Linked DNA regions of Homo sapiens: all the other regions are linked to region 1. Evidence: fine-mapped expression QTL. A gene starts in region 1. Each other region holds a variant in brackets. All regions are shown on one strand. Distances are between the middles of the regions.

What was found.
Region 2: its variant is fine-mapped to the expression of MAP7 in blood mononuclear cells (TOPMed, PIP above 0.99). The same link has a PIP of 0.9 or more in T cells, lung, monocytes, subcutaneous fat, tibial nerve and whole blood.
Region 3: its variant is fine-mapped to the expression of MAP7 in coronary artery (GTEx, PIP above 0.99).

What each region holds. Positions count from the first base shown.
Region 1 is chr6:136,547,277-136,555,460 of GRCh38, forward strand. It overlaps MAP7 (microtubule associated protein 7), which reads right to left and starts at 3,146. Exons shown (of 18, transcript NM_003980.6): 1 at 3,066-3,146. The coding sequence starts at 3,132. MAP7-AS1 (MAP7 antisense RNA 1) reads right to left here and starts at 5,229. Exons shown (of 1, transcript NR_186370.1): 1 at 3,447-5,229. RefSeq lists enhancers at 1,982-2,520, 3,059-3,596 and silencers at 2,818-2,867, 2,878-3,057, 3,098-3,447.
Region 2 is chr6:136,361,450-136,369,633 of GRCh38, forward strand. MAP7 (microtubule associated protein 7) reads right to left here. Exons shown (of 18, transcript NM_003980.6): 9 at 4,878-4,990; 10 at 4,286-4,569; 11 at 1,001-1,253. It also overlaps the pseudogene RPLP1P8. Among named protein-coding and RNA genes, the nearest start is that of BCLAF1, 76 kb to the left of the region's middle. The variant C/T (reference allele first, on the strand shown) is at 4,478.
Region 3 is chr6:136,580,818-136,589,001 of GRCh38, forward strand. It overlaps MAP3K5 (mitogen-activated protein kinase kinase kinase 5), which reads right to left. Exons shown (of 30, transcript NM_005923.4): 24 at 2,738-2,923. Among named protein-coding and RNA genes, the nearest start is that of MAP7-AS1, 32 kb to the left of the region's middle. The variant G/C (reference allele first, on the strand shown) is at 4,629.

The DNA.
Region 1 (8,184 bases):
TTGACAGGTTATTGGCATTAACTTATTCCTTCGTGCATGAAAGCTTCATGAATTAATCAAAAGCAGCTTTAAATTTGCTTTTAGTTCAGGAGGTTTTTAAAACAGGCTATCAGACTAGGAAATTAGTGCTGTACACTCGCTTTCCACAGCTCTTGAACATGAACATAAAATTAAATATACAAAGCTTGGGTAGAGGCAGTTTTGTGAATATCACCCATCGTAGGTCGACTACTCAAAAAAGGCTGAAAAAGGACTTGACATCCTCTAGTGGTGATGTCTTAAACTTGTTTCCAAGGCAATTTTTTTTTTCCCAGCTCTTAACTTTGGCTGTTGGCAAGAAAAATATTATATTGGAAGAACTTTTCATCCTCAAGAAAAATAAATGTTTTCGCCACAAAGAATGTGATTTGACTAACTTTGAGAATATATACCCACAGAAATAGGGTTTTTAAATGTTGGGTTTATATAATAGCTTTCAATATGCTTAAGAACGGTCTCATTTCATAGGCCACACGCCACCACTGTCAATTCATCTTTGATACACATATACACACACACACACTCACACATATAATTCTGAACACATTACAGGTATCATTTTTATAATAACCTGATATTCTCATCTAAAGTGCCCTAAAATTAGACCAGTCTTTGTATAGAGACCCAAAAACTAAGAGTTATTTAAGAGTGGACTCTACCTCATAATAATGAGTTCTAAAAAGAAATAAAATTAATCCCTCAAGAAATGTTGCCATTTAAGGTGGCAATTTTCAACTCTTGATGGTAATAGTTTCTCTGTCCACGGCCACCCACCACCACCACCCCCCCCCACCCCCCCAACAATTCCATACAAACTTCTGATTGTTTAAAAAAATGAGACTTGCAGTATTTGGATGTGTATAATGTGAAATATGTTCACCAGAATGAAGTGCTAAATTAAAGTCTCATATTCAGATATAGGTCATGTGTTTTAAATATATGGAATAACTTAAGTTGTTGAAATTCAAACAATCTCACTTGTTCTCTCAAAATAACTACCACCTAGATTCAAAAAAATACATTTACACCTTCCTTCTTTCTTTGGCACCTGCTGACACAAATGCTTCTGAACACTAAAAACATTAATAGTAATCTTGGGGTAGAAAAATAGGAAAGAGATGCGGGGCCAGAATTAAGTTTTCAGTGAAATTATAAAGTATAATTATTCAAGACCATATATAAAAAATGTCCTTTGGAAAATGAAGTTTTTAGGCAAAAGTGTGGAAGAAATGTTTTCTATGAAGGAGATAACAGCCAATTTAACTCCCTTTTTAATAAAAGAAAATATTACACTGACAGGCACATGGTTGATTTGTATATTAATTGTTGGAAGCACGGCCTATTCCTTAACATGCTCAGGCACTGAATATCCTACAGTTTGTAGTCAGTTCACTTATGTCTGAACAAGTTGTTCACGTGCAGATTCTAGAAAGTTTATTTTTGAGCACAAACTAACACTTAGCTCGCTAGAACAATGTTGTTTCACATGCAGTTACTGGGTCAGGGTTAGGAACGAAAATCATGCCGTATATTTACAAATGAGGATGCTCCTCTCCCGGGGCCCTCACTTGGGGGAGCCCCGTCCCAGCGTCTAGCTCATCAAATTCCCGAAAGCAATTACAAAGGCATCTCTTCTCCACCCCAAAACAAAATAATGATCTACCAATCTTGCGAACACATTAAGACAAACTCCCTACAGGAAGGAGCATGACTTAAACAAGTTCAAGATACTTTGTCAGTCTTAACCTCAGGTATCTTGGCTGAAGGGATTAAATCATTAGACTTTACGTACCCAACCTCTTCCTAGCAATAGCAGATACATAATTTGCAAATACTGTTTCAGAGCTCTCTGGACCTTTCACGTTAAAATAAGCATACTTGATGGTGGGGAGACAGTGATTCTTACATTTAGGAAACAAATGCTTCCGATTGTGACCGTATGGAAGTGGAAAACAGCTTGCAATTGGAGAGTCTAAGAATTGAATTTCTTTTTAAAGTAAGAAACTGCCTCACTGCCCCCATCCCCAAGTGTAGGAAGATATAGAAACAGCTTACTGGCCAAGAATAGAAGAGGGAACCAGTGGAGAGGGACGGATTTGCAAGATAGCCTCTGGAGAAAAAAAAATCACGAGGGAGAAAAATCGGCTTCATACTATGGAGAGATGGGCGGGGTTGGGAAGCCTTGCTGCTGGTCTTGGGAAGCCTTGCTGCTGGTCTTGGGGACGTGATCCCCTGTCCCTAAGTGTGCCCCTGGAGGTTGTGGGGGAGGGGTATCCTCAACACAGAGGCCTGACCACCAAATCCCGGGCTGCAGAGCCAACAATCCTCCTTTGGGCTCCTGCACAGACTAAAAACAAAAAACTCTGAGAACTCCGACAAGTCAACGAAAGTCTGATCCCGTCAAGCCCGCACTCGCAAACCCCCACCGTGCTGCACTGGGCCCCGGCCCTCCCGAGCTCGGTCCCCTCGGACGACGGTCGTCGCCACTGCGGGCACCAGATTGGGGGGCGGGCCGCTCACCCCGCGGTCCTGCCCCACACCGACCCCGCTGAGGAGCCCCCGGCACCCGGGGCGACCAGGGAAGGCGGGAGGAGGTGCCCAGAAACTGCTCGTCCTGCCAGTCGCACCTGGCCGACGACTCTCTGGCCACTGGTTTGGTCTGGGGGATACGATTTCCCATTCAACTGAATTAGACCCGAGGCCGCGGCGGGGAGGGCAGCGGCCGGGGTCTCTCCGTTTCCTCCCCCGGCTCGCCTCCACCTGTTGCGGGAAAGTCGCGGTGGAGCGCCCGAGGGCGGCCGCAACCCCGGCCGGGGCCGAGCCGGGCTGGCCGAGCCGCGGCGGCGAAGGGCGGGGGAAGGCGCTCTCGGAGCAGGGTGCGCGGCGCGCAGGGCCGGTTGTTCCGGGCCGCGGCCGCGCGGGCGGGGAGGGGGCTGCCGGCGCCGGGTGATTTCGGTGCCAGCCCGCCGGCCCCGCTCGCCGTCCCCTGCCCGACGGGACCCCCACTATCCCCGCTGTGCGGTCACCTGTTTCGCTTCGCACTGCGCCGTCGCCGCCCCTGTGGCCGTCGCCGCCAGCTCCTAGCTCCGCCATGGTGCTCCGATGACGCGCCCGGAGAGCCGCTCCGCCCTTTCCTCGGCTTGGCTCCCGCCGGCCCCCGCCTCCCAGGCCAGCGGCCCAGACAGGTGAGCGCAGTCCGGGGATGGCGGAGGGCGGGGACAGAGAGCGCGGCAGTCGGCTGCGGCCTGGGCCTGGCGCGCCCCCTCGCGGGCAGGTGCGGCGTGGCAGCCGCTCCGACCGCCGCTGCCGAGTCTCGGCTGGAAGAGCGGCGGGCGGAACCAGTACCTCAGTCCGGAGCTTCCGGTCGCCGCGGCCGACCAGCTGAGGGCTCCCGGAGATATGGAGCGGGGTCAGCGAGGCCTGGTGGCGCCTCCTGGAGTCTGGGACGAGCGGCGGTCCGAGGAGCAGCCCAGGTGGGGCGAGGGTACGGAGACGCTATTTCCCTCCGAACTCTGAAGTAGCCAGGTCAGTGTCGGCTCCGCGAGGGCTGGAGTTCACGGTGACAGCCGGCAGAGCATCTGATGCCACGTGGAGAGGCGAAGTACATGGGTCGGATTCCACGCTGGGAGCCGGCCTGGATCTGCGCTTTAGGAAGCCACTGCGGGCGACCCTATCTTGTCGCCAGGACTTCGCATCTGATGAGCCTCAGGGCACACAAGTTAGAGAGGCTTGTGCCGGCTGATGTGGCTTTTCTTTTTCTTAGTTTCCGTTTAGTAAACGACCTTGTGACTTCTGGCTTGCTCAGGAAGACCAGAAAAAAAGGCAATAGGTAACGAATTTTTCTTTTTTTAAAGAAACAGATTATTGGCCGAGGAAAAACCAATTTCGCTCTAAAGGATAAGCAACAAAATACTGAGGGGGGAAAAAGCCTACACAAATGGAAACATACGGCACAAAATCAAGGAGCGACCAGTTCCGCATGGTTACACTAAAATGCACTGCACTCCCACTCTCTGGCTTGGCTGAAGATAACCAGCAAGCTCTGAACAGTTTAAAAGCCTTCCAAGGACTGCAGCAGCACTGGACACACAAGAGAGTCGAGAACAGTATTGGATTTATTGTTAGGGTTACAATTTTCACGATCTTTGCATGCAAAACTTGCCACTCTGAGCCCAGTGAACTATTTTTATTTGGTTTACTTACTGGCTTTCTGGATGACTAGGTAGAGCTTTAACTAAAGAACACTTCTGCTGTGGTCTGTGATGATGAATTTTCCCGTAGTGTCATTTCTATAATGGAATAGGCAAACTGACCATTTAGAATGTGATATTCCTAAATCACATTCAAATCAGTCTTATCAGAGACTTCTAATCAATAAAAATAAAGCACCAGATGGCTAGAGGTAGTTTTTGACCTCAGCTTGGGCCTCAGCAAAGATTTTTTGTGTTTTTTTTAACTACATTAAAACATCAGAGTTTAAGACACTTTTCTTTGAGCATCAGAAATACTCTCAGCTGAATTTAGAGTTGAACTATCCGGAAGAACCCTGGAGAAGGAGGGTGATTTATTTTCAACTTTCTGATTTACCACCGACTTAAATCAACCAATGAGTTCTTTCTTTGACCAAAAAAAAAAAAAAAAAAAAAAAAAAAAAAAAAAAAATTCAAGACTTGTGATGTTTCTATTTGTTTTGTTTTGTTTAGTTTGGTGTGTGCTTACTCATTGTCCCATTCTTTTGATAACCTGTATTTATCTGCCACAAGTTAAACAAAAATAAATGAAATAAGGAACACACCAAAATCCTGCACTTAGGCCCTGTATAGACAGTGTGTTCCAAACCTAAGGAGGTGTCTGCAACAGGGGAGGCTGCTGAGTGACTCTGCAGAGAACAGATGACATCTGTTAAATGTCAAACACCATCACGTCGTACTTCAAGTTGTACTTTACTTGGAACATGGAAGCCATCTGTCTGGAGCTCCCACATCCATTTCAAATCTTCAGGGTTCCCCATTCCAGGGGAGGAGCTGAACCTCCTGACACCGTCCACTTCCCTCCTGCCTCCTTCAAACATCATCCCTTTTTTCTCCCGAATCCCTAAATGTTTCTGCACCCAAGGGCTCTACCCCAATAAACACAGCTAAGACTCTTTGATTCTTAAAATGTCTTCCTTTAACGTCCCACCCTCCAGAATCTATTGTCGTATGTTTTGTTCACCAAAGGTAATAAAAATAAATGTGGATTTTGGTGCCGTTATTTTTCAAAAAAAGCTATATATTAATAGTTTTTCTTGCTTATGTATACAAATCAAATTACTTATTTTTAAATCCATCATTCCCCTAGAGTTTCTGCAGCACTTGATCCTCTAATCACCTTGCTCTTGGTCTACCATTGGCTTGGTTTTTCTCCTTCCTCTGTAGCAGTCCTTTCGTCTTTGTTGACTCAGATTCTTCCTCCCTTCTAATCCTCCAATATTTTTACCATCCCCTAATTGTAAACCACAGGCTTTTTATCTTTACTGTCTCTCACAGCCCTCATTTACTATTACTTCCATCCCGGATCCTGGTGACTCCCAACTCCAGAATATATACCCTTAACCTCACTCCTGACTTCCACTAATACATTCTGAATGGTCCCTGCACAATTCTATCAAGATACCCTGCTGTTAATTTAATATGTTCCAAACCACATTAATCTTGCAATATACAATCACTTTACACATACCTCTCCCTTGCTCAAAAACCTTTAATAGATTCCCCGTTCCTATATAAGTAAATATTAACTTCACCTCCTCACCATCACCACCACCACCCCCTAATTGGGCCCTGAGCTCTCTACTACCCATTTCCACTTTTCACCTCTGTAACTCATATTTCTAGCCCATGGAGTTGTTCATTCTCCAGAACACCTTCCAAATCCCTGCTTTCTAGTCTTTGTGCTTGAAGCTGCTCTGCCCGAAGTGATGTCCTTCATCCTGACGTATTTAATAATACTTTCCCTTTGAGGCCCAGGTTAAGGTCTACTTCCTCCATGAAGCCTGTTCTTCCTGCCCTGGCTCCCAGCATGCCTGTCCTTTGGACCTGGCCAGGGCTTGCTGGGCTTGATACTTGTCCAGCTGTTAAAATAGACTAGGCATGAGTTATTGCAAATTTGCCTTCTCAATCTGATGCACATTTTTGGTAGTAGGGTCTTTGTCCTCTACTTCTCTACAGGGTGTCCATAAAGTCTAGAACTATCAGTTATTTTATTTGTTCACGAGTTGCAGATGTTCTTGATGACATCATGTGCACTGCCTGCATTCTGAACTTGGTAGGCATGGTATATATCTTTTGTGTTGCTACCGTGCCTCACACACAGTGGGCATTCAAATGGGTTAATAATTCCTCAATGCCAAGCTTTTTTATGTGGTGGCCTAGGGATGAACGAAACCAAGTATCCAATGACAGAAGAAAGAGATCAAAATGCAGTTAAAAGGAAACATTAGATCTACTTCTCCCAGCAAATTCCTGTTTTGTTTCTTTTATAACACTGCCACCACCCCTGCATTAACTGTTCTGTTTCAAACCATCTTTCCAGGCTCAGCTCTGCACCTTCACTCCTCTGGAAAGCTTTCCTTGACCCCTTCTGACAGTAAATGTAACTATAGCACTGACTGCACCACTGTTGTTTCTGCTTTGTCTTGATTCCTTGACAAGAAACTTCAGGGGAAAGAACTGTATCTTGTTGGTGCACCACAATATGTAGTACCCAGTATTTAATAAATACTTTTGAATGAAGGATAAGTGATGGCAATAGCAAGCATATCTCAGTGTTTACTGTATGCTAAGCATTGTGCTGAGCACCTCTCCTGCATTGTCTTTTCCTTTTTGAGACAGAGTCTTGCTCTGTCGCCCAGGCTGGATTGCAATGGCGTGATCTCGGCTCACTGCAACATTCACCTCCTGGGTTCAAGCAATTCTCGTACCTCAGCCGCCCGAGTAGATGGGATTATAGGCGTGCGCCACCACGCCTGGCTAGTTTTTGTAATTTTAGTAGAGACAGGGTTTTGCTGTGTAGGCCAGGCTGATCTTGAACTCCTGGCCTCAAGTGATTCACCCACCTCGGCCTCCCAAAGTGCTGGGATTACAGGCACAAGCCACTGCGCCCAGCCTCCATTTTCTTATTTACATCTTATAGCAGACCTATGTGGAAGGTACATCATTTCCTCCATTTCACAGATGAGGAAGCTGAGACTTGGAGAAACTAATTCAGTTGTTCCAGGTCACAAGTCAAGTTACAGTTTTGCTTCAGGCCTGGGTGTGTAGCCTCCTGCTACGCTAAACAAATGATGAACGTTAACCATCTTGCTATTCCCTCTATAGAAAGGGGCTCTCCATTTCCCTCTCTAGCTGTTACCTGAAATAAGGAGGTGAAGCTTGATCATGTTAAAACACCTGTGAAACTAATTTTTAAAAAGGGTATCTGGGCCCAACCCCAGACCAGTAAAAACAGTTTTCCGGCTGGACACAGTGGCTCATGCCTGTAATCCCAACACTTTGGGAGGTTGAGGCAGGATGATCACTTGAGCCTAAAAGTTCGAGACCAGAGTGAGCTGAACATAGTAAGACCTTGTCTCTACAAAAAATTTAAAAATTAGCCAGACATGGTGGTGCATGCCTGTAGTCCCAGCTACTTGGGATGCTGAGGTGGGAGGACTACTTGAGCCCAGGAGGTCAAGAATGCAGTGAGCTATGACAGTGCCACTGCATTCTAGCCTGGGTGACAGAGACTCTGTCCCAAGAAAAAACAAATAACAACAACAACTCAGTTGTCCCAAGGTGGTGGCATCAATATTTTTGAAAAAGCATCCAAGTCATTTTAATGCGAAGCTGAGTTGAGAATCACTGGCCTAGATTGATCCTAAAAGCGTTTCAAATGCAAACCTTTCCATAATGGAGTCTTCCATAATGGAACTGTCTTCTTTTGTGCCTGAGACCCAAAATTCTCACAAATGGCTAATGATGTTGGCCTGGGAGTGTGTTAGAACCCTGTAGGGACAGAGGATCATCTGCTCACAAAGACAGGGTAAGAGGAAGGTACCAAGGAAAGATTGTATCCTTGAAGATTTGGTTTATGGTGGGTAGCTGGATCCTATATACAGTCAAAAGA
Region 2 (8,184 bases), 190 kb before region 1:
CTATTTTTTAAAGGCTCTGACTTGTTTAATTCAAATAATGTGACTTCTTAGTAATGAATTTGAAGCACCCCAGCCAAAGGGAATCTTTGTAAATAAATAAGGGTCACAGTGTTCTGTCACAGGACAGGAGGAAGACAGCCATGTAAGCTCCCTGTTGGAGCCAAGGGAAAGGCATGGCCAAGATGGCGGTCCAGCGAGTGCATGAGATCCTTCCCCAGGGTACAGTTGTGTTCGTTTGAAGAACAATTATATTGACATTCGTCTTATTAGGCCCAGAAGATGACCAATTAAACAAACTGTTTCTGGAATACTGCCTGGCAGGCAATCATGGGGCATGTAAAGATCCCACCTGGCTACCCTCCGAGAGGAGTTTTATCTGGAAAGGAGAAAACATGAACCCTTATTATGCAGCCTTAATGTGATAATTACAAAGATAAAACGGAAACCTGGAGATTGGAGATGTGTTAAGTAAAAAAGCAGACTGTACAATTGTACCTCTGCTGTGGTTATAATTATGTAAATATGTATATGTATGTATATATACACACACACTCCCATACTGTTGAGAGACTAGAAAGGACCACCCAAAATGTACACTATTACTGAAAATTGGTATGATTATGGATTTTTTTTTTCTTTAAAGCTTTCTCCATCAATGTTGTTGCACTGTCATTAAAATAAGAAAACATGGCTGGGCATGGTGGCTCATGTCTGCAATCTCAACACTTTGGGAGGTTCAGGTGGGAGGATCCCTTGAGCCCAAGAGTTTGAGACCAGCCTGGGCAATATAGTGAGACCCCATTTCTATTTAAAAAAAAGAAGAAGATGTGATTTAAAAAACAAACTGCTTAGTAGTCATAGGAAAATTAGGTAAGAGTAATCCTGAAAGAACTAATCCATTCACTTTCATCAGTATTATCACCTCCTCCCTCTCAGAGGGGTGATGAGTTAATCCAAAGTATCACTGACACCATGGTGTGGAGCAATGTCTCCCATTTACCTTTCAAGCTCTTCCTGCTCCCTCCTCTCCCTTTCTTCCTTTTCTCTCTGCTCTCGGGCCAGCCGCCTCTTCTCAGCTAGAAGCCTTGTGGCCTCCTCTGGGTCGGTGGTGCCTGCAGAAGTCTTAACAGAAGCACTGGCATTCACAGTGGATGACGGGGCTGAGACCATGGCTGGGGTGGGGACCGGGGCTGGAGCTGGGGCCGAGGCTGGAGCTGGGGCCGAGGCTGGAGCTGGGGCCATGGCTGGAGCAGCTGCACAAATAGGTACAAGGAGAAAACCAGTTGGAAACAAAATCCAAAGAACAAAACCAAAACTAGCATTCCCCACATCCAAGGCCTAGAATTTACCATTATGAAAGAAAAGGGAATGTTTATTACTGTGTGTTCTCACGGTTTCACTATGTTCTATCTGTAACCAAGCAACAGATAAAAAAAATCAGTATGTGTAAGTAAGACATCCAACAAAGCTGACACTCTGTCACCAAGTCTTATTTTTATACCAGTTAAATCAGTTAACATATATTGAATGTGTACAAAGCCTCATGTTAGAGTCTGTGGGGAGTTATACACTGAGCAAAAAGAAGATGAGATCATCCATTTGTCTTTTATTGCATTTGAAAATTCCTACTCTTCGGTAACCATTCATTACTAGAGCAGCATCCTCAGCATCCATGCCATGAGTCCAGATTCAGCCTGGGAAGATGATACCCTATGAAGAGGACCCTTTTGTCTCCCCAGAGCTGTCTCTAGGTCTGAGATGGGAGGAGCTCGGGGCCTCTTTGGGAGCTGGTGCTCATTCTGCTTATATATCCCAAGCTGCCAAGATGCAAGATGGGAGCAGAAGTTCTCTGGCCTTACTCGGATTTAGGAAGATGACCTAGAGAGCTGGTGCCCCAGAAGCCCCACACTGATGCTCACAATTCTGCACCACAGTGAGCAAGGCACCAGCAAGTGCAAGCTCTGGCCCCTGGCTGCTCCAGCCCCTCCTTTTGAGAGTCACATTTCTACTTCTGCTTCCACAGACTTTTCTCGGCCATCATGATGCTCTAGCCCTTCTTTCCTTCCTTTTTCCATGGAAACAAATACTGGACTCCTCCTTTTTCTAACATTTTAACCTGTTTTGAATCATCTCTTCTTTCTTTGCCCCACCCTCTATCTTCAAATTAAGTCTTTTGAATGAAGACAATTCTCAACTAGAAATATTGAATTCACAGCTCCAGGTGGTTTTAAATTTCTAAATAGCATCTGGCTAGCCTGGCAGAGGTGAGAACCAGTGGGCCTTCTGGAAAAAAATTCTGACTTCTATCAAGCACACAGGCTATACCAGGGGTCCTTAAACTCCAGTATGCACAGGAATAGCATTGCCAGATTTAACTGGCCACCCTGTGTTCTATCTGGCAACCATGTTTAGGAATCAACTGACAAGCTTAGTATCTTTCAGAGTCCTCATATCCACCACTACATATTCTGACTTAGTAAGTCTGAGGTAAAAACCAAGGGTCTGTATGTCAAAACATTATAGATGTGGTGGTTTAAAAATATTTCCAGTTTTCCTCAGCTGCTGCCAAGCTGCACTCGGTCCCTCTGAGGAATGTAGGGCCACATTGAAGTGGAACCCTCACTTCATCTGGCAACTAGCACCTTGCCTGGCAGTGCCAGCCCCACACTTGCTCACACCATGGCCTCTGTTTCTGAGCTCGCCTGCATTCTGCATAAGGCTCGGCCCTCATTCTGCATGAGGGTGAGGTGACCGTCAAGGAGGATAAGATCAATGCCCTCATTAAAGCAGCTGGTGTAAATGTTGAACCTTTTTGGACTGGCTTGTTTGCAAAAGCCTTGGCCAATGTTGACATGGGGAGCCTCATCTGCAATGGAGGAGCTCGTGGACCTGCACCAGCAGAAGGTCCTGCCCCCTCCACCAATGCTGTTCCAGCTGAGGAGAAGAAATAGAAGCAAAGAAAAGAGAGTCTGAGGAGTCCAAGGAGGATATGGGCTTTGGTCTTTTTGACTAAACCTCTTTTGTAACAAGTTCAATAAAAAGCTGAACTCTTAAAAAAAATTCTTTGAAAACTCTCTCTTCAAAAGTTGGAGACTATGTTTCTCCTTGAGTGTGAGTTCCACCTAGTGACTTGCTTCTACTTAACAGAATGTGGCAGAAACATTGGTGTGCGACTTCTGAGACTGGGTCATAAAATACATTGTACATTCCTCCTCATTCTCTCTTCCAGGTCACTCACTCTGGCAGAAGCCAGCAGAGCAAGCAGATAGATGAGGACATTCAGCAATAATATGGAGCGGTCCATGTGTGGAGAAGCTGAGGCCACCCGCCCCCGGCCTTGTATGTAAGCCACCTTTCAGATCTGGTTGAGTCTTGAGATGACTGGAGCTCTAGTGGACAGCTTGACTGCAATCTCATGAGCGGTCCTGAGCAGGGACCACCCAGCTGTGCTGCTGCCAAATTCCTGACCCAAGAATCCATGTGATATGATAAATGTTTGTTGTTGTTTCATGCTGCTAATTCATTATGCAGCAATAGATAATGAATACAACAGGTGATTTTGATGCAGGTGCTCTGAACACATTTTGTGAAATGGACTCAGCCAATAAAAGCACTGAGAACCTACACCTGAATTCACGTGTTTGTGGCTCTATCAATAGGCTTTTGGATGTATGATTTGAGATTTACATTTCTACTTCTGCTTCCACAGATTTTTTTCATGGCTATTATGATGTTCTATGACCCTCCTTTCCTTTCTTTCTTTTTCCATGGAAGCAAACACTGGACTCCTCCTTTCTCTACCATTTTCACCTGTCTTGAATCATCTCCTCTTTCTTGCCCCACCCTCTATCTTCAAATTAAGTCTTAAGTAGAAAACTTTGGAATGAAGACAGTTTTCAACTAGAGATATTGAACTTCAAGCTCCAGGTGGTTTTACATTTCTAAGTAGCATCTGGTTACCCTGGCAGAGGTGAAAACCAGTGGGTCTTCTGGAAAAAATTCTGACTTCTATCAAGCACACAGGCTACGCCAGGGGTCCTTAAACTCCAGTATGCACAGGAATAGTGTTGCCAGGTAATTTTTTACTTAGCGTTGCTAAGTAAAAAACTATTTTTAAGCAATGCGAAGTTAAAATATTATACTTAAGGAAAGGTATTAAACTTAACCTTAGAGTAAAATTTCCAAGTCTCCAATAAAAGAAGAAAAGGAAAACAAAAAAAGCTTCATCAAAACAGTGCGGGAGAAAAAGAGAGAGCACCCAGACCACAGGTGAGTTTGCTCTTACCAGGGCCAACTTCTGGTTCAGCAGGTGTCCGCTCTTCAACTGTGGCTTCTTCTACCTTCACTAAAGGTGCTCTGCCCTTTAGTGAGGGCTCATTGGCAACTTTCTGAGGTTCCTTCTCAGGATCTTTCTTCTCAGGCTCCACTTTGACTTCCCTCTTGACAGGGCGGATGTTGCCGGGGGATGGGGGCCGGA[C/T]CTGAGCAGGAGCAGCTTTGACTGAGCCGGGTGGCAAGGAGGATGTCGGTCTGGGTGTGCCAGGCAAATGAGGAAGAGACTTGGACGGAAGCCTGGGCCACAAACAAACAAGGCAGACAAAAGGGGACACATGAGAACAGGCTTGCCAGAACCTAGAACACGACTCGATGGAAGAGAATGCAGATATTTAGCTCCGTGTATTTGTTTTTTATGTGGTAGATACAGAAATAGAGTTGCTTTAGGGAACCATTCCAATTTCTCTTTTTTCTTTCCTTTTGGGAAGAATGCTATTCCCTAAGTCAAAGCCAAACAGCATGAGAAGAACAGTTCACTTTCAGAGGAGAGAGCTACTAATTCTCTAACATGAAACAACCCAGCCAGCCACTTATATTTCACTTACCAAAGTCGGGAGCGAGCTGGTTGTCTTGCTTTGGGATTAGATGGAGATACAGCCCTTCGGGTGCCAGATGTGAGGAAGAGTACATTTTCTCTCTCTCTTTCTTTTTTATAGCTCTAAGTTCAGAGAAACTCAATAGTTAGATTTTTCCACAAGCGAGGCAAACACACTCACAATACTCAACAGTGGAGCTAGAAACCATTGAATGACTTTTAAGAAATTTTCTTAGCTATGTCACATATACCCATTCCATCTCAACAAAAGGCCCTTGTTAGCTTAACACTGAACAGTATAACTGAATTAACACAATGTGACACTAATAAGGTGATTCCGGATGTGTTGGAGTCATATTTGTCAAAAAGCATATGTGTGTACATACTTTTAGAAAGCACCTATACTTTGTGTCTAAAATTAATTACCTGAAGCAAAACGTCCCATTCTGGTTTATCCCCCACAAATGTCAAATGTTACTTTCATTTTTTAAAAAATTTTAATTAAAACACATCTTTTTCTTTTTAATTCTTCAACATTTTCCCCCCAAACACACTATATCTCAGTCTTTAAAAAAATTATATGCCTGCTATATTAGACATAAACTCATTTTTTTCTTTTATATTGATGTTGTATAATGGAATCAAGTCCTTCTTCACCTACTGTCCTCTTGCAGCAATAGATAACTGATACAATAGGTGATTTTGAAGAAAAGTCAGGTTTAAAGTGAGGAATTTCAGCTATTTATTTTTTTGCTCTTCCTTACCAGGAATAAACTGAAATCTGAAGGTGGGCCAAAACATCACCCCTCCCTGATTGCCAACTAGGAATTCAGCTTGAGAGATGACACTTTCCTAAGTCAAAATGGGCAAAGGGAAGCCCAGAGAAGTGTTCCACTACTCTAAAGTCAATGAAGACCAAAACAAACAAACAAAAATTGTACAGAGCAAAACAGACCCATTCCAAGTATCTGAAACCTGACAATGCCCTCAGGTGGGAGGGGCACGTGCTGGAGGCACCTATGTGAACACCTGTCAGGAGGGCAGACTGCAAGCGTACATGGGAAGGGGCAGAGTATTATCTAGCCCCAGGTCACATGAACTAGTACTGTACCTTTTCTTCTCTCCTTTTCTGCCTGGCTCAAGCATCGACTCCTCTTTTCCTTCCTTTCCCTTTTGTTCCCCTCAGTGTCCCTTTTAATTGCTTCCCTCCATTTTCCTTAGCAGCATCCTAGTTGATGGTCTGGGTTATCAGAGGAGCAAAAACATTTAAGTGTCAAATAATGCTCATTGTCTCCCTGGGATTTCTAAACAGAAAAAATGAAGAAAGAGGCAGAGAAGAGCTTCACAAGGTGTGTGCCAGCTCTGCATCATTTCCAGCTGCTCAACCACCATTTCTCCCATTTTAGGTCCCCAAAAGTAGGAGGTGGGGCCTCACAGAGCTGCTGTGGGCTTTGGGTATCAAAAGCTGCAGCCACCATATGGGGCACTCCTGGCTGGTGTACAGGGTGGCATGCCCAGGTCTTTTCCCAGGGGAGACTGGGGTTAAGTACCTCAAGTAGCCCTTCTTTTTTTTTCTTTTTCTCAAAACATTTTGATTTGGCTGAAATCAGATCAATGGGTGATGTAAATGGGAAAAAGACTCAAGAGGGACAATTTTTGATGTGGCGTGGGGGTGGTTGGGGATTATTATTATCTGTGCCTTGATAATACAGGGATCAGGGAATGAACCTATATAAAGGTATATAATCCTAGAATTACAGTACCTTTGAGCCAATTCTTTCTTTTTTAAAAGTTATCTCCTTTAATCACCTAGGGGTAGGTGAGCAGAGGAGGAATGGTTTGGAAAAACACTCGATACTTAACACCCTCCCAACCAGGGAGTTTTTTTTTTTCTTTCTTTTTTAAACCTTTCAGTCCTTTTGTTACTCTTATATCCAACCACCCATTTGGGTACCACACATGTAAAGGCACTCCCAATTCTCATCCTGATCTGAGTTAATAGCCCACCATCTATACAATCATCTTTCCTATTAATAGTTTCCACAATGCTGAGGGGGAACACATACTCAGCAAGTCAATGGTCTGGGCAACATATCAGCAGGAAAAGGACTTTAATTTTATAATTAAGGTAGGTTTAGAATACAGTATAAATATCCTCCAACAGAGACGATTCACTGACAGATACTTTAACGCAGTGCTGTTTAATAGAACTTTCTGATATGATGAAGATGTTCTAAATTTAGCCACTAACCACATTTGCCTATTTGAATTTAAATCTAAATTAATTCAAATTAAGTAAAATAGAAAAGGAAATTTGAAAAACAACTCTATTTCCTATAGCATCCAAAGGAATAAAGTACTTAGGAATGAACTTAACAAAGGAGGCTAAAGATCTGCATACTGAAAACTAGAAGATAGTGCTGAAAGAAATTAAAGGCAACACAAATAAATGGAAGGAAGTCCTGTGTGCAGGGATTAGAAGATTTAATACTGTTAGGATGTCACTACTACCAAAAGGGATCCACAGATTCCATGCATTCCCTATTGAAATCCCAATATAATTTTTTATTTTTGCAGAAATATAAAAATTCAACCCAAAATTCACAGAAAATTTCAAAGGATCCTGAAGAACCAAAATAATCTTGAAAAAGAACAAAGTTGGAATTCTTACATTTCCTGATTTCACAACATATTACAGGTTGAGTATCCCTTATCCAAAATGATTGGGATTACAGTGTGCAGATTTCAGATTCTGGAATACTTGCATTAACACTTACTGCTTTAGCAGCCTTAATCCATATAACTGGAAATGTGAAATGCTCCAATGAGCATCTCCTTTGAGTGTCATGTTGGTATTCAAAAAGTTTCACATTTTGGAGCATTCTGTATTTTTGAATTAGAGATACTCAATTGGTGAAAAGCTACAGTGATCAGTACTGTGTGGTAATGGTATCAAGACAGATATAGATATATGGGGCTGGGCACTACGACTCATGTCTGCAATCCCAGCATTTGGGGAGGCCGAGATGGGTGGATCGCTTGAGGTCAGGAGTTCAAGACCAGCCTGGCCTACATGGCGAAACCCTCTCTCTACTAAAAATACAAAAATTAGATGGGCGTGGTAGCACATGCCTGTATTCCCAGCTACTCAGAAGGCTGGACATGAGAATTGCTTGAGCCTGGGAGGCAGAGGTTGCAGTGAGCTGAGATTGTGCCATTGTACTCCAGCATGGGTGACAGAGTGAGACTGTCTCAAAAAAAAAAAAGATATATAGACCAATGGAATAGAATCCAGAGCCCAGAAACAAACCCTTGTG
Region 3 (8,184 bases), 34 kb after region 1:
ATTTCATTTGTTTTGGAGACACGGTCTTGCTCTGTCACCCAGGGTGGAGTGCAGTGGCGGGATCATGGCTCACTGCAACCTGTGCCTCCGGGGCTCAAGCAATCCTCCCGCCTCAGCCTCCCAAAGTGCTGGCATTGCAGACATGAGCCACCGTGCCTGGCCATCTTAGCCATTTTTAAGTGTATGGTTCAGTGGCATTAAGTACATTCACATTATTGTACTACCATCACCGCCATCCATCCACAGAACTCTTTATCTTGCAAAACTAAAACTCTATACTCATTAAACAGTAAGTTCCCATTTCTCCCTCCCCACAGTCCCTGAAAACAAGCATTTTAATTTCTGTCTCTCATAAATTTTACTACTGTAGGTACCTTCACATAAGTGGAATTACAGTATTTGGCCTTATGTGAATGGTTTGTTTCACTTGGCATAACATCTCTAAGCTTCATTCATGTTGTAGCATGTGTCAGGATTTCTTTCCTTTTTAAGCTTGAATTATATTCCATTGTATGTATTTATCATGTGCATTACCTTTGTAAAAACAAGCTTTTAGCATAAGACTATGACAAGCTCACTTAGATTTTGGGTTAACTCTACTACCTGCTGGCTTACACAGACCTCTAAAAAAAGAGGCTATTTCCCCAACAGGGCTCTGGTTAGATACCTCTGAGTATCTATAGTATGATTATGGAAGTATAATTTTATTTAAATTCCAAAAATTTAATCACCATCCCTACTGCAGCTGGGGAGATGGTGACCCAGCCACAAACCCATGTCAAGAGCTGGAGCTCCAGTTGCTCATGCCTGTCCTTGGTCCATCTTCATCAAACTCCCCTAGTTTGGAAGAGAGTCAGTTTGAGGACTTCATCGTACTAGTTGCACAGGAAATGAACCCTTGCTAGGTTCCCACTTGTTCTAGAAAATCCATCCAGGCTGAGTTTGTCCTGGTACCTTCATTTCTTTAAAAAATTTACATACTGGCTGGACATGGTGGCTCACGCCCTGTAATCCCAGCACTTTGGGAGTCCGATGCGGGCGGATCACCTGAGGCCAGGAGTTCAAGACCAGCCTAGCCAACATGGCAAAACCCAATCTCTACTAAAAATACAAAAATTAGCTGGGCATGGTGGCAGGCACCTGTAGTTCCAGCTACTCGGGAGGCTGAGGCACAAGAATTGCTTGAACCCGGGAGGCAGAGGTTGCAGTGACCTGAGATCATGCCACTGCACTCCAGCCTAGCCAACAGAGGGAGACTCCATCTCAAAAAAAAAAAAATTTACATTCTTATTAGGTGGAAGAGGGATCTGTTATAACCATAACCTGCTCCTCTCAGCTCTTTATTACATAGCAAATTACATCATAGGGCCCATACTTTGGGTTCATTCTCATCCTGGACAGTGAATGAGCAAGAGCAGGCGTGTATGTGTACACGTGTGTGTATACGTGTGTGTGTGTGTGTGTGTGTGTGTGTGTGTGTGTGTGTGTGTGTCTGACCTGGCCCAAGGCCCAGGAGTACAACCCAATAGCTCTCAGTCTGAATTCTACAGCAAACTTGCTTTCCAACCTCTAGGCTAGAGGCCAAATGTGTGGGCAAGTGCAAATTAGCTAAATTATTTCACTCTACTTGCAGGCAGTTGGGTTTCCCTAGTTGCAGCATAAGCATGCTTTTAGCATTTAATATTAGTGATAGGCTTTGCCAGTTGCTTTAATTTCTTATGCCCTCAATCAACTCAGGACTCTTGTCCCTGCCCACAATATAGCATAAAGACCAAGTGGCTTACACAGTGTCTCAGAGAATGCTAGTAGTTATTGAAGGATTCTAATTTGGCTTTAAATTGGGGATCATTTGATGTTGCAAATAAAATTGTCAACACACTTTCTACAAAGAAGCAATACACACATTAGGGCTGAATTAATTTTGGAATTTAAATAAAATTATACTTCCATATTTATACCACAAGCACCATCAAGAACCCTCTTATTTCAGTCTCCCACATCTTGTTAAGGGTCTCCTGGAGGTGGCTTGAGGCTTTTTTGGCACTGAGTTCCACAGATAAGTCTCACCCAAGAATAACACAGAGGGTTCTGAATGCAGTACAGAAGACTGGCTTTAGTTTGTGTTGCATAGCAACTCAATTTTGGAGAGAAGACTTCTCAGCAATCTCTCATTAGATCATGTGCTTTAATTTTTAATCAGTGATGCTCTGTACTCTGAAAGTATACTTCTGGCTAGAACAGAGTAGGTATTTATGAAACAAACATGTTAAAAATGTTCTATATGAAAACTAGAGAAAAACTGGAAAAAAATTAACTGGTTTTATTCAGCAGTGACCATTTCAATCTGTACTATTAAATTTTTCTCAATGGCCACTAGATGGCATTTCTCATATAGCATTAGAAAATGTATGACTAAAGTGTGTTACGTTGCTAAAGTTGTCAAAATAAACAATGACCCAACATAATTTCATAAGAACGAAGTTCAGCCATGGGAAATATTTTGTTATTTTCCATGGTGATTTGGTTTTATGTGTTTTTTAATTTGGGGAATGCAAACACACAAAACAACAAATCAGATACTTAGAAGCACACTGAGAGGCGAATATCTCACATTTTTCATCCAAAAAGAATAGAGTTCACTGGAATTTTAAAAGAAAAATAACAGAACTTATGTTTTATCTTATTTTTCTAACTAATTTTAGTGTGTGGGAAAACACTGGCAAAATATCATACTTACAGCATCTTGAAAACCAAAGAGTACCACCTGGACTTGGCTAATGCCATGGCTGTCGAAGTCCAGCTCCAGTTTCAGCTTTGACAGTGTGGTGGCTATGATTTTTCGGTCAGTGGATCTCACAAATTCTCTGAGGCTTGCAATGAGGGTTGTGATGTGTTCCCATTTTAGTTTCGGTTCTTCAGCCCCCTGTGAATAAAAATCAACAATCCTTACATCAACATATGCTGGATATACCTGCCATGGTAATCCTATCTCCATACCCCCTGCCCCCACATTTTTTTTTCTTTTGGTAGAGACAAGGTCTCACTATATTGCCCAGGCTGGTCTCGAACTCCTGGGCTCAAGCGAGCCTCCCATCACTACTTCCCAAAGTGCTGGGATTCCAGGCATGAGCCACCATACTTCCCACAGCCCTTTCTGAGAAGAACTGGACTTCCAAATGTCTCCAAAGGAAAGACCATATTTTGAACTATATGGCACCTCTTCAATCCTCCTACCAACACCAAGAAATAATCAGAGAGAAAAGGTACCTGCCCCACACGCTGGTCAGTAGCCATGATATAGTCAGATAACAAAGCTTTGCCCAAAAAGACTAAGGCCATAAGATTCTTTCAGAAATTTTAATTGGGAACTAAAAAGAGATTTGAGCAATAAGCCATAGGATCTCAACCTGAAAGTCTGCCCGGAAAGAGAAGCTATAAAATAGGGTCATGAATATGTCCAACCATAGCAGAAGCAATGGAATTGAGAAAGACAATAGGGAGTGTATTAGTTCGTTTTCACACTGCTGAAAACACATACCCGAGACTGGGCAATTTACAAAAGAAAGAGGTTTAATTGGACTTACAGTTCCACGTGGCTGGGGAAGCCTCACAATCACGGCAGAAGGCAAGGAGGAGCAAGTCACATCTTACTTGGATGGCAGCAGGCAAAAAGAGAGAGCTTGTGCAGGCAAACTCCCATTTTTTGAAAGCATCAAATCTTGTGAGACTCATTCATTATCACAAGAACAGCACAGGAAAGACCTGCCCCCATAATTCAATCACCTCCCACCAGGTTCCTCCCACGACACATGGGAATTGTGGGAGTTACAATTCAAGATGAGATTTGAGTGGGGACACAGCCAAACCATATCAGGGAGGGAGAGGAGAAGTGGACAAGAACAGAAATGCACACCAAGCAGGTCAACAGCAACCAAGCCAGAGAAAAGATGTGCAAACTCCGGGGACTTGAAGTTCCTCAGGCTCATATTCTGTTTTCAGTGTCTGTGAGACTCGGCTAGGCACTATGATTGGAATTCCTTAAGAGTCTACTTCCCTTATTGCTATGCGTGTCTACCTATAACATGTCCTTGGTACTTCAGTTGTCCTAACGGTGTGTCAGTTCCTTGCAACCAAGAGGGGCTGATCTCAAACTTCATTTTTGAAACTACCCCTTACCCATCAATGAAGCAATTGCTTCTAAGAACGGACCGATGGACTATTTTATTACACTAAAATATATTACAATGTTCAAACAAATGCTCTTTCTCAAAATGATTTTTTCTTTTTGTTTTTTTTTTTTTGTTTTTTTTTAAGAGACAGGGCCTCTCTTTGTCACCCAGGCTGGAGTGCAGTGGCACAATCATAGCTCACTGCAGCCCCTAACTCCTGGGTTCTAGCTCTCTTCCCACCTCAGCCTCCTGAGTAGCTAGGGACTATAGGCATGTGCCACCACACCCAGATAATTTTTTTTAAAACTTTTTGTAGAGACTGGGTTTTGCTAAGTTGCCCAGGCTGGTCTCAAATTCCTGGGCTCAAGTGATCCTCCCACCTCCGCCTCCCAAAGTGCTGGGATTATAGATGTGAGCCACTTTCCCCAACCTCAGATGGAACTTTTCTCCTTTGAGCAA[G/C]GCATATTGCTTCCTTTCTTTTCTTTTCTTTATTTATTTATTTATTTATTTATTTATTTATTTATTTATTTTTTGACAAAGTCTTGCTTTGTCACCCAGGCTGGAGTGCAGTGGCTCCATTTCAGCTCACAACAACCTCTGCCTCCCAACTTCAAGTGATTCTCCTACCTCAGCTTCCCAAGTAGCTGGGATTACAGGCACCTGTCATGCCCAGCTAACTTTTGTATTTTTAGTAGAGCTGAGGTTTCGCCATGTTGGCCAGGCTGGTCTTGAACTCGTGACCTCAAGTGATCCACCTGCCTCAGCCTCCTGAGTGCTGTAATCCCAAAGTGCTGGGACTATAGGCATGAGCCACCATGCCCAGCCCACACTGCTTCTTTAAGGAAGCACAGTAGGATGTTATTTGTTCCCATTTAACTTTAAGAAAATATAAGAAACTTTAAGAAACTATTATATCATTTTTATTTTATATTGTACATTTTCTTACTGTACCATTAAAATTAAAATTCCTCCACTGGGCTGTGAAAATTATAATTTCTAGGAGTCTATTAAAATAAAAAAGAAATGCACCATCGAGTTCTTTCTCTTAATATATTTTCATTTGGAAGCTTGGTCTCATGTTTATGTTTTCATGAGATAAGATTATATTGAAAAGCTTGAAAGCTGTCATTAAACGAATACTTTAAAATCACAATGGGAACCATTATAAACTTTGTTGGTTTTTTCCTTACCACAAACTAAACTGCACCCAAGGTAAAGATTCACAGGCAAAATCATAACATCATGAAAACATGTTCAAGAAGAAAAATGTGAGTTATGCAGAAATTGGAAGCTTCTCTTAGTAAAAACTCAGTTGCAACATGTTTGCCAATAGCAAACTTCAAATGGCAAACTTTTTTTTCGACATTAACTTTGTTTTTACAACAGAAAAACATGTTGCTTCTGGTTTTTTGATGTGTGTGCTACTGTCCTGCAAAGGAACATGCTCTACTCTGGGAAATGTTTTCTGTTCAGACTATTTCATCTACTTACGTCATCATTTATTTCTGTTCTGACTCCAGTCTCTCCATGTTAACTCACTCATGTGCCTTCAAAAACAAGCATCTTGGCTAGTATCTGGTGAGCCTGACTCAGCATCAGCATAGATTTAACGGTATGCATTTCCTGCACTCCTAGTACCAGGTTGTGATGGTTAATACTGAGTGTCTACTTGATTGGATCGAAGGATACAAAGTATTGATCCTGGGTGTGTCTGTGAGGGTGTTGCCAAAGGAGATTAACATTTGAGTCTGTGGGCTGGGAAAGGCAGACCCACCCTTAATCTGGGTGGTCAAAATTTAATCAGCTGCCAGTGTGGCTAGAATATAAGCAGGCAGAAAAATGTGAAAAGAGAGAGTGACCTAGCTTCCCAGCCTACATCTTTCTCTTGTGCTAGATGCTTCCTGCCCTCAAATATTAGATTCCAAGTTCTTCAGTTTTGGAACTCAGACTGGCTCTCCATGCTCCTCAGCCTGCAGACAGCCTATTGTGGGACCTTGTGATTATGTGAGTTAATACTTAATAAACTCCCCTTTACATATATATGTATTCCATTAGTTCTGTCCCTCTAGAGAACCCTGACTAACACACAGGGTCTTCTGCAAAGATGCTCTCCAGTCTTTATCCTTTAAACTTCCTCAAAAACCAGGAAAGGATTTCAGAAGGATGTTACAGATTAAAAGGCTTTTCATGGTTTAAGGGTTTGAGGACCTGACCAATATCTAGATTTGGTTTTGTTATAAAGTGTAGGCTTAAATATAGATACAAATATGTATCTAGAAACAATACAATGGCAATAATTACTTCTGATTGATTGTAGAAAAAAATTAAAGATATTAGATAACTATTATTAGCCTGCTTGATAATGATAACAATAACAGTTAACAATTGTGGAATATTTTCTGTTATGATTTAAATCACTCACAATCTCAGTTACTCCTGATAGCAAGCTTATAAAGTAGACTCCTCTATCATAGATGAGGAGGTTCAGGCTCTGAGAAGTTAAATCGGTTGCCCAAATTGCACAGCCTTTAAGTGATGGAACCAGGCCTCAAACAGCAAGCTAAGCCCAAGCTCCTAACCATTCTATTCTACTGCCCCAATGACCTGCAATAGCAGCTGTCAACCTGGGTCAGGACCTGTTCTACCACTGAATCACCATTTGATGTCACAGGAAAGGATTCCCAACATCCTTAACAGCAGTCAGAAGGGCCCCACCATCATGTGGCCATTATGGATTCAGCATGTGATTCTGATCAGCAGTTTCGGGTACTCACTGGTAGCTTCATGCTGGTCCCCTAAGGCATGCCCTCTGATGGTTGCTTTTAAGGTTTTCTTTCATTTCTCCTTTTACAGAGGACATTCAAATGCACTTTAAAACCAGGAGGCACCAAACAATTGAATATGACTAACCACTCCCACATTTAACTATTTCAGCACAGTCATAGAAGTGATGACCAAGGCAGTCCTATCCCTGATGATGCTATGGTCCAGCAGGGAGACAAAGAATAGACCCCAACAAACTGGCATTTCCTGTACTGGAAAAGCACATTCTTTGGGGGTAATTAGAGATTTAGGCAATTCCTGGGTTTTATGTGTTTTTGACCTAAAATCAAGCATTTTAAAGGTCCACAGGAGAGGCCTTCACTCTGCAGTGGCTAATGGTGATTTACTTTCTTTCTTCACCTCCAATGCCTAATCCCCACCCCACTTTATGTTTTCCTAGCACTTGTCACCATCGGGCCTACCAGCGAGGCAGAGCAATGTGGTGGTTAAAGCAAAAACTTCAGAGCCAAACTGCCTGGGTCAAAATCCTAACTCCATCACTTAGGACTGCATGACTTCGGCAAACTACTCAAGTCCTCTGTGCCTGTTTCCTCATTCGTAAAATGAGGATGCTAATAGAACTATTGGTATAGTATTACTGTCATGAAAATTAAATGAGCAAATACACATGGAATACTAAGAACAGTAACTGGCCTAAAGAAAATGTTAGCTGTTATTACTATATGTTTTATATATATGTATAGTTTTTCTTCTTCTGCTAGAATGTCAACTTCAAGGGGATGCAGATATTTTTGTTCAGTTCGCCACAGCATCCCCAGCACATAGTACAGTGCCTGGCCTTCGACTGATGCTCAATAAGTATTTGTTGAATGAATAAATGAAAGAACTCCAAGGGCTGCCCAGCTGCTCTCTCCATCCAGCTTGGTTCCTCTTCTTGGGTCAACCCAGTCCTATTCTCAGTCTTTGAATGATCACCGTGAGCCAAAGGAAAGGCCAGAGAGAAAGCTGATGGCTCGAGACCACTCCAGTCTCCACCGCCACGAAGCATGCATGACACTCATCCTCCCTGGACTCAGAGGCCAGCTACCCCTCACTCTAGAGCACCTTCTTCCTGGGCCTCAGAGTAACTGCCCGAGACAGCTTTCCTTTAGGACCCAAGTCAAGGTTTTTGAGAGTGTGTAGAAAACACTCATTTCAGCTCTCCTTGTACTGAGGCCCTACTGGCACATAT